2 separate regions of the Homo sapiens genome follow, and region 1 is linked to region 2. The links come from fine-mapping of genetic effects on gene expression. A gene starts in region 2. The other region holds a variant in brackets. All regions are shown on one strand. Distances are from middle to middle. Region 1 has its middle 57 kb from the start of KCNC4. Region 2 holds the start of KCNC4 (potassium voltage-gated channel subfamily C member 4).

What was found. PIP is the estimated chance that this variant, and not a neighbour inherited with it, causes the effect. A credible set is the group of variants that fine-mapping cannot tell apart.
Region 1: its variant is the best candidate, but not a certain one, in a credible set for the expression of KCNC4 in spleen (GTEx, PIP 0.56).

What each region holds. Positions count from the first base shown.
Region 1 is chr1:110,265,193-110,269,572 of GRCh38, forward strand. It overlaps a transcript of KCNC4 not described here. Among named protein-coding and RNA genes, the nearest start is that of KCNC4, 57 kb to the left of the region's middle. The variant A/T (reference allele first, on the strand shown) is at 2,194.
Region 2 is chr1:110,207,698-110,212,029 of GRCh38, forward strand. KCNC4 (potassium voltage-gated channel subfamily C member 4) reads left to right here and starts at 2,617. Exons shown (of 4, transcript NM_001039574.3): 1 at 2,617-4,332. The coding sequence starts at 3,803. KCNC4-DT (KCNC4 divergent transcript) reads right to left here and starts at 2,290. Exons shown (of 2, transcript NR_046546.1): 1 at 1,914-2,290; 2 at 753-1,507. RefSeq lists silencers at 215-274, 285-334, 2,297-2,976 and an enhancer at 4,214-4,332.

The sequences.
Region 1 (4,380 bases), 58 kb after region 2:
CCCTTCCCCCACACTCTGAGCATCTTCAGAGAAAGATCTCGTTTATAGTGTTCAGGTTCTTCCTAGGCTAGAAGCCTCGGAAAAATAAGTTTACAAGTGGCTGATGAGTGAACAGTAGAACTCTCAGGCTCCCTGAGTTTCCAGCAGCAGAAATAAAACATAAATAAAATAAAATAAAATAAAATAAAATAAAATAAAATAAAATAAAATAAAATAAAATAAAATAAAATATTCCCCACCCAGAGGATGGCCCCTAGCAGTCAGGTTTTAGGCTGCTAGAAGAGGGCTCCCAAAGGAGCTTTTAGAGAGGGCTGCCCAAGAAGTCATCCAGGCCCCTGTTCCCAGGCAACACTGAGGAACTCTGCACTCCTCTGGGCTGCTTGAGTTTCTTGCATTACAACAGTACTTATGTCAAAAAGTTAACCATCTCTGGTTTGGAGAGAAAGGCCCAATAGTCATCATCTTCCATTTTAGCACCAGGGAGCCTGTTCTGGGGCCCCGAAGAGGAACTCAGAGCCAGGGAAGAGGCCCTTGGAGGTGGGTAGGACAGGGTAGGTCCTGCCCAGCACTAGACCCTCTCCTCCTGAAAACACGGAGAAACTGGGCTGGTGGTGCTCCAGCCCCAGAGAGGCCCTTGGTTCCTTTGTTGACCCTCCCAAGTGACTTGTTGCACCTACCTTCCTACCTTGTTTGTCATTTGTTCATTCATTCATTCTTTCAGCACAGATAGACCCAGCCTACCATGTGATAACACTAAACCTCAGAGCACCGCAGGAATACAAAAGAAATACATGTAGCCTTGTTCCCTTTTCACATAGAGAGCTAGGGACAGGGTGGGGACTGCCTCTTGAAGTTCCATGAAGGCAGAAGAGGCACTGTGGAGCATTTAATAGATGCAGGCATTCTTCTGCTTAAGTACAATTCACCCAATTCCCCCGACAGCTCTGGAAATAGGGGGAGAAATAATGGGCAGGGAAGCAAGTTAAGTGGCTGATCAGGGACACAAGTACTGGCTTTGTGGTAACCAGATCCCAACACTGTTGCATGGGGAGAGAGTCTCAGTTGACTGAAAGGATCAGATATTGAAACATTCATAGCCGCAACACCGAAACTGCACCCTGGAGGGCTGAGTGAGGAGGGGAGGGGCTGGAGTGCAGAACAAACCTGGTCCCACAAATAAATCCAGCCCCAGGACATCACTTTCCTAATGAGAAGCAGCAAGAATTTCTGCAAGGTTTTTGGAAGACCCTTTGGAAACAGTCATTCATTGTTGGTAACCCTCACTGAGTCCTTAGGAACAGCCAGGCTTGCTCTAAGCACTTTACATGGGATAACTCCTTTAGTCTCCCTAGCAACCCTAGGAAGTAGGTACTATTACTATTCTCATTTTGCTAATGAGGAAAGGTAAAACGACTTGCCCAAGGGCACAGAACCTTTAAGTGGCAGGGCTGGGATTTGAACCCAGCCTAGCTCCAGCCTCTGCTCCTAGCTATAAGTCTGCCACAGCTGTTGTTGCCATTCTTGATCCAGATTGGCCCCCTTGCTCTTTGTATGGGCCCCATTTCTTCCCCTTAAGTCTTGGCATCTGTACCCCAAGGGACCCGAATACCAGGAGAGACCTAAAGTCTGTGTTCCCCGGACCCGAGGACCCCGTGCCTTGATGTGCCATTGTCATGGGGATGTTTGCCCCTTCTGATGTCTCCTTCTTAGCTCCTGGTTAGTTCTCTTGAAGCATCCCACTTTCTCACTTTGGCTTGCAGGGCAGGCTGAGCAAACACCATCTGCCAAGAGGCCTGCAGCAAAACAAACTGCAGCAGCCCCAGAGGTCTTGTAGCTTCCATTTAGCAAGCAGCCCGCACGCCTCTGTGGGCAGAACCCTTGGGGAGAGGGCTGCTATTCATCACTTGTTTGGCTGTGGGAGGCTCAGCAGTCTGTGTAGGGTGGGCTTTGCTGGGGAGAAAGGTGCTGGTTTTCTGAGAGCTGAGGAGGCCACTGGGAAGGTTTGGGGCCCAGGAGGGCTGCTGCTGGACTCCAGGTTGCTCAGGATCAACGTCTTTTCTCCATTCTGATGCAGAAGAACCATGTGCTTGCTTGTTTGCTATTTATACTGCAGTTGCTGTCTAGGGGTTTTCTTTGAAGGGAATGAATAGACTCTGAGGCTCTAAGTACATTTCTGGCTCAGTGCTGTGCTGC[A/T]CACACCTCAGTTCAGCTGATACGAGGCCCGTCCTTATTCCCCGCTGCCTCCATGTCCTTCTGGAATCCGTACATTCCAGATAGCACCACTCCCCAATGCCTCCACCGCCCACATGAACACACTCCTAAGTACATTTACAATCCGGCTCCTGCTTCCTTCCCTGGCCAGCAAAACTTCATTTCAGCCTCTCTTAGGATTAGGTTATGCCCTTAGCCATCATCTTATTCTGTTCCTTTTAGCAAGATGCGAACCTCTACATTCTGTCATTCTTAATCCTCCTTGCCCCACTTCCTATGTATCTCACCACCAGGAAGGGACTGAAATCGCCTTTGCAGAATTATAAGTAATGAGAGAAATCTAACATGACAGACTCCATCTTGCTTCTAACCTCACAGGCTAAATTGGTTTTTTGCTTATTCTAGTCTGGAGGCCAATATAACTATGAGAGGAATTTGGTTTACAGTTAAACTTTGAGGCCAGAAAAACTGCCCCTTCCTTGTTCAGAGATTGAAGTCGCATTCGTAATACATGGTTAGAATCATGGTAAGGGCTCTAACTTTGCTGAAGAATAGGCATAGTTAAGCAATAACCTGCCATGACTTAGCATGCTTTTCTAGAAGTTTTTTACTACCCCCGAGTCATGTAAGCAGGGGTCACAAGATTTATAACTTCCCCAGCTATTCCTATATAACATCACTATTGTGAAACCTAAAGAACTTCCCCATATGTATCTGAGATATTTTTGAGATTTTTTTTCAGATTTGGCATTTTGGCAGACCAAGAGATAGATGCCACCTGGTCTTGAGACCCCCTCCCAGTACCTGACTCAGCTGCACAAAGGCAGCTTTAGACACCCCTGTGATCTTATCCCCTGTCAATCAATTGTTTCAATTCTCCAGCCCCCTGGCTGCCAGAGTGCCTTTAAGAAACTCTAGCCTTGGCCGGGTACCGTGGCTCACGCCTGTAATCCCAGCACTTTGGGAGGCCGAGGCGGGCAGATCACGAGGTCAGGAGATCGAGACCATCCTGGCTAACACGGTGAAACCCCATCTCTAATAAAATACAAAAAATTAGCCAGGCGTGGTGGCGGGCGCCTGTAGTGCCAGCTACTCCGGAGGCTGAGGCGGGAGAATGGCGTGAACCCGGGAGGCAGAGTTTGCAGTGAGTCGAGATCGCGCCACTGCACTCCAGCCTGGGAGACAGAGCAAGAGACTGTCTCAAAAGAAAAAAAAAAAAAAAAAGAAAAGAAAAGAAAAAAAAAGAAACCCTAGCCTTGGAATTCTCGGGAAGACAGGCTTGAGAAGTTTCTCCCGTTCTGCTCATGTGGCTGGCCCTGAGATTTTATTTTTTTTTTTTTTTGAGACGGAGTCTCGCTGTGTCACCCAGGCTGGAGTGCAGTGGCGCGATCTCGGCTCACTGCAAGCTCCGCCTCCCGAGTTCACTCCATTCTCCTGCCTCAGCCTCTCTGAGTAGCTGGGACTACAGGCGCCCGCCACCACGCCCGGCTAATTTTTTGTATTTTTAGTAGAGACGGGGTTTCACCGTGGTCTCGATCTCCTGACCTCGTGATCCGCCCGCCTCGGCCTCCCAAAGTACTGGGATTACAAGCGTGAGCCACCGCGCCCGGCCTACCCTGAGATTATTAAGCTCTTTCTTTGCTGCAACAACCTGCTGTTCTCATTGTTTTCTTCAGGGCAGCAGGCAAGAAGAACCCATCAGTCTGTGACAGGGCCATCTTTTCAGAAAGCAAATCTCCCTGGGCCTTCCTGTAGCCTGGTATTTTGTTTTTTTCATTCAGGTTTATTAAAGTGCAATTTACACCAAGTAAAATACAACTCAAGATTTTTGACAGACACGTCAGTTGAGTAACCACCACCACAATCAAGATACAGAACAATTCCATCACCCCAAAACATTCTCTCATATACCTTTAAAGCCAACAACTTCCCCCATCGCCAGCTTCTCACAACCACCAATCTAATCTGTGGTGGTTTTATTTTTCTCCCCTCTGGTTTCGCCTTTCCCAGAATGTTACATAAATGAAATCTGGAGTCTGGCTTCTTTCACTCAGAGAGACTCAGCCATGTTGTTGCAAGCAGCAGTAGTCCATTGCTAGGTAGTATTCTGAAGTATGGATGTACCACAGTTTATCAGTTCACCAGTTGAAGGACATTAGAGTTTCAAGT
Region 2 (4,332 bases):
GGAATTTCCAATAGTGGCTGCTTTGTGGTCTTGCTTAAGCCTGTCAGGTATCAAGGTCTTGGAGGAATGAAGAAGGGAGGGAGTAGGCAGAGTCCCAATGGCAGAGTTAGGCTAGAAGATGTACCTGAGGTCCTGGAATCAACAGGAAGCCCAGAATCAGCTGCCACCCCATCTGCCCACATCACAGCCCCCAGAGCTCAGGGCGAGGTCTGGAGCCAGGATGTTCTAGCACCACCAGAGGGCAGCACCCTCACATCCATGGTAGGCTGTGTCACAGTAGCCTGGGCAGGGGGCTCTCCTATCCTTCCCCGGCTCTGTGTTTTGAGGGAACACCAAGACCTCACACAAAGAAATGATGGGGACAAGTCCCATAGTGCTAACTGCAGCATATCGACTCCCTCAGAGAGGTACACGTAACAGGTGAGCCCAGAGTTCTAGAATAAACCTTCAGCAAGGGTGAGGCATTCTCTGGAGGCCTCAGGACTGAGGCTGAGCTCCCCTCTCCCGAGCTGGTCAGTGCACAGAGCTGGGAGTCCTGGCCCCATGCACCTTTACCCAGCTGCCTCTCTCAGGCTGGGCCCTCTGTTTTTGTCAGCTCTTCCTAGGTTCCTATGCCTGTGTCCCAACTTTCTGATCTTCCTCCCTTCCCTCTTGGCCTCCTTTTTCCCTGGCAGCTTTCTCCCTTTACCCATCTCCCCAGGTGCTCATCACTATCCACAAGCACCGCAGAGTGGAAGCACCAGTTGGGCAGATTTACTAGGATGAGTGGCTGTTTTATTCACTGATGTATTTCCAGTACCCGGAACTGCTTCTGGCATATCGTAGGTATTCAATAAGTGTTCATTGAGTTAATAAGTCAATCAGGGGTGGGATACTATGGGTTTTGTCCCCTTGCCTACTACACTCCCTTTGTTACAATTACTGAGCTCAGTCATCCTGATGAACGGAAAGCAGGGGAGAGACCCCAAGGGACTTTGCCAGGACACGGACCAGATAGGACTTGAAAGTTATTCATTACATTAATATTCTGTGGTTCTTTCTTCCTCACTCCAGTTTCTGGCCTGTCCCGGGTCTTCTCTTCCCAGTCACACTTGGGATATTTCTTTTCACTGCAGCAAACTCAAAGACAGCTAAACTCTGAAATACAAACATCAGTTTCGAGGAGCAGGGACTGGGCACAAAGGGGGTGCCAGTAAATGTGTGTTTCTGATTAACTCACCTCCCCTGCGTGTCAGTACAGATCATCAAAGATCATTGTCATTTTGGTTTTCTGGCCTCATTAATAATGAGACTTTTGCTTGTAAAAATCCCTTGCATTGGCACTGAGCTTTTAACCTTTCCTGAGACACACATAGGCCCTTGTCTTGTTTTTCTCAGTTGAGCTAGGTACTGCCTGATCTGGAACTGGGAAGGTGCACAGGTGTCCAGGGCAGGTGTGTCATTCACCTTTCATTTCTGCCTCAAGATCTCTTTACATCATCCAGACAGGCATGGAGGCTGCCTGAAGCTGTAAAAAAGAAAAAAAAACCCAATGGGGATTAATATGAAGATGTAAAATAGGTTCTGGACTTAACAAAAACAAATGAATCTGGAAATTGCTCTTGGGATAGGGCCAGTAAAGTCCTGTTGGTGCCTACGTTTTGGGTATGGCAGCTTCTCAATCACTTAGCAAACAGGTTCTCAGAGGCAGGCACTGTGGGAGCTATCAAGATGAAAAAGCACAATGCCGCCTGCAGGAGCTCAGGGTTAGGGAGGGGAGAGGAGACATATACACAGGCAAAGTCAAATTGTAATGGGTAGAATAAGAGTAGAAACAGGAAGGGGTCATGAGGCAGGACACGGGCATTTCCTATGTGGACCCCAGAGCAATGACGAGCAAAGGCTTTAACTAATGACTTTTCAGGGCCACCCACCCACTCCACATCCATAAAACATTTCGCGATGAACACAGCCAGAGCTACGGTTTCCTTCCATCCGGCACAAGAAGCGCTTCTCTGCCCAAGGCCACCCCGTCCTCCATTCCATCGCGGGGACTTTGGTGGCTGGGACAGAGGCGGAGAGCATCAAGACCATGGGTGTCTTGGGCTACGTTGGGCCTCCGAGGCGCAGGATGCGGGGCGGGGTGGTCAGAAGGCCCCAACACGGTCCCTGGGAAAGGAGAGGGCAGCCTGATCCTCGCGACAGCGTCTCTACCCTCTTTCTTCCTTGGCCTTCCGTCAGCCGCAGTGAAACGGCAACAGTGCGACCAGCTTGGCGGGGAGGGGGCGAGGGACGAAGCAAGAAGAGCCGGGCGGAGGTTAGAGGTCAGGGGTCGAGAGCGCTTCGGTGTCAGCGGGCTGCGGTGGGAGGAGCTGCGGGCCCGGGGGAGGCGCGGAGCAGGGCTGAGGGGGGCGGGAGGGGTTGCCGGCGGAAGCGCGCAGGGGCGGCGCGCTGGGCTGGGCACTGGCGGCGAGGAGGTGACGCGCTTGGTTGGGGCTCGGCTCCGGGGAGGAAGACTGCGCTCGGTCGCCAGGGCCTGCAGTGAGTCGGATCGGCCCCGCGCTGCGCCGCGCCCCGCCCACCCCGCCCCGCGAAGGGCGCGTCTGGGCGAGGCGGGGCCCCGGAGGAAAAGGCGCCACTGGGGCGTGGCGGCCGCTGCCAGCGCCGGAGGGAGACCATGAGCCCCTAGGGCCCCAGCCCACCGGCGCCGAGGCGCCCCCTCCCCTATGCCACCTCGCGCCCGCCCCCTGCCGCGCGCGAGCCAAGGCCGGCGCCCCGCCCGGAGATGGGCAGACGCGTAGATGGCGTGGCTCCCAGCGCCGCCAGATCGCAGGAACCAGGCGCCGGGGCGTTGCGCTGAGGCTCCCTCTCCGCGCGGCCCGGGAAGCCTGCAGGTGTCCTTGGCCGCTCGGCCGCCGCCCCCGGTACACCTTCGCCAGTGCCCAGAGCCCGGCTCCCCAGAGCGGCCCCGCCCCCCAGGCTCGGCGCCGCGCAGGACGCCCCGTCTGAGGCACCCCCGCCCCAGCGCGGCCCCCGCAGCGCTGCGCCCGGTCCGGCGCAGCTCCCAGCCGCGGACGCAGGACCCGAGGCTCGCTCCTGCGGGCGCGCTTGTTTTCCAGCTGCCGCCTCGCCCTGCGCAGCCCCCGCCCGCCCGGCCGCCGCTCTCTGCTCTGCCCCGCCTGCCTTCCTCGCCCGGCGCTGGATTTATGAATGGGGGGAAGAGGCCACATGCCGCCGCCGCCGCCTCGTGTTGACCGCAAGCAGCCCGGGCCCACGGAGCTCCGGCTGCCGTGAGAGTGTCGGCCTGGCCCCGGCAGCCGCTCGGAGGACTTGTTGCTGCTGCGCTGCCGCCGCTGCGGGGAAGCCGGCTATTCCGGGGCTTGGTGCGGTCTTGGAGCCGGAGGGTGGCCCGTGTGAGCGCGAGCGCCCCGGACCTTCGCGGTGCGCGTGGACTGTGCGCTTCCTCGTCTTTGGTCGGGGTGAAGGCGGGGGCGTGTCCCCGGCCCAGAGCGTTTGTGTGTCCCGTCGTAGCGGGGGACCGCGTGTGTGCTTGCTTCTACTTCCCCGGGTCCTCCCTCTCTGCGCCTCCCTCTCTCCGGAGCTTCCTGCCCTAACCCCAACCACCTGTGTACCGGAGAAATCCAACTCCTCCCGCTCCGCGTCCTAGGGGGATAGGCAGGGGCAAGCCCAAGCCGCAGAGGGGGCCGCCACCGCCTCCTGCCTCCTCTTCGTCTCCTCCCCCTCCCCCGTCTGACGCTGCCTCCTCGGGAAGGGTGTTTGGAGGGCAGCGGCCGCCCCAAGCCGGAGCCCCGCAGCGCTTCTTATGATCAGCTCGGTGTGTGTCTCCTCCTACCGCGGGCGCAAGTCGGGGAACAAGCCTCCGTCCAAAACATGTCTGAAGGAGGAGATGGCCAAGGGCGAGGCGTCGGAGAAGATCATCATCAACGTGGGCGGCACGCGACATGAGACCTACCGCAGCACCCTGCGCACCCTACCGGGAACCCGCCTCGCCTGGCTGGCCGACCCCGACGGCGGGGGCCGGCCCGAGACCGATGGCGGCGGTGTGGGTAGCAGCGGCAGCAGCGGCGGCGGGGGCTGCGAGTTCTTCTTCGACAGGCACCCGGGCGTCTTCGCCTACGTGCTCAACTACTACCGCACCGGCAAGCTGCACTGCCCCGCGGACGTGTGCGGGCCGCTCTTCGAAGAGGAGCTCACCTTCTGGGGCATCGACGAGACCGACGTGGAACCCTGCTGCTGGATGACCTACCGGCAGCACCGCGACGCCGAGGAGGCGCTCGACATCTTCGAGAGCCCGGACGGAGGCGGCAGCGGCGCGGGGCCCAGCGACGAGGC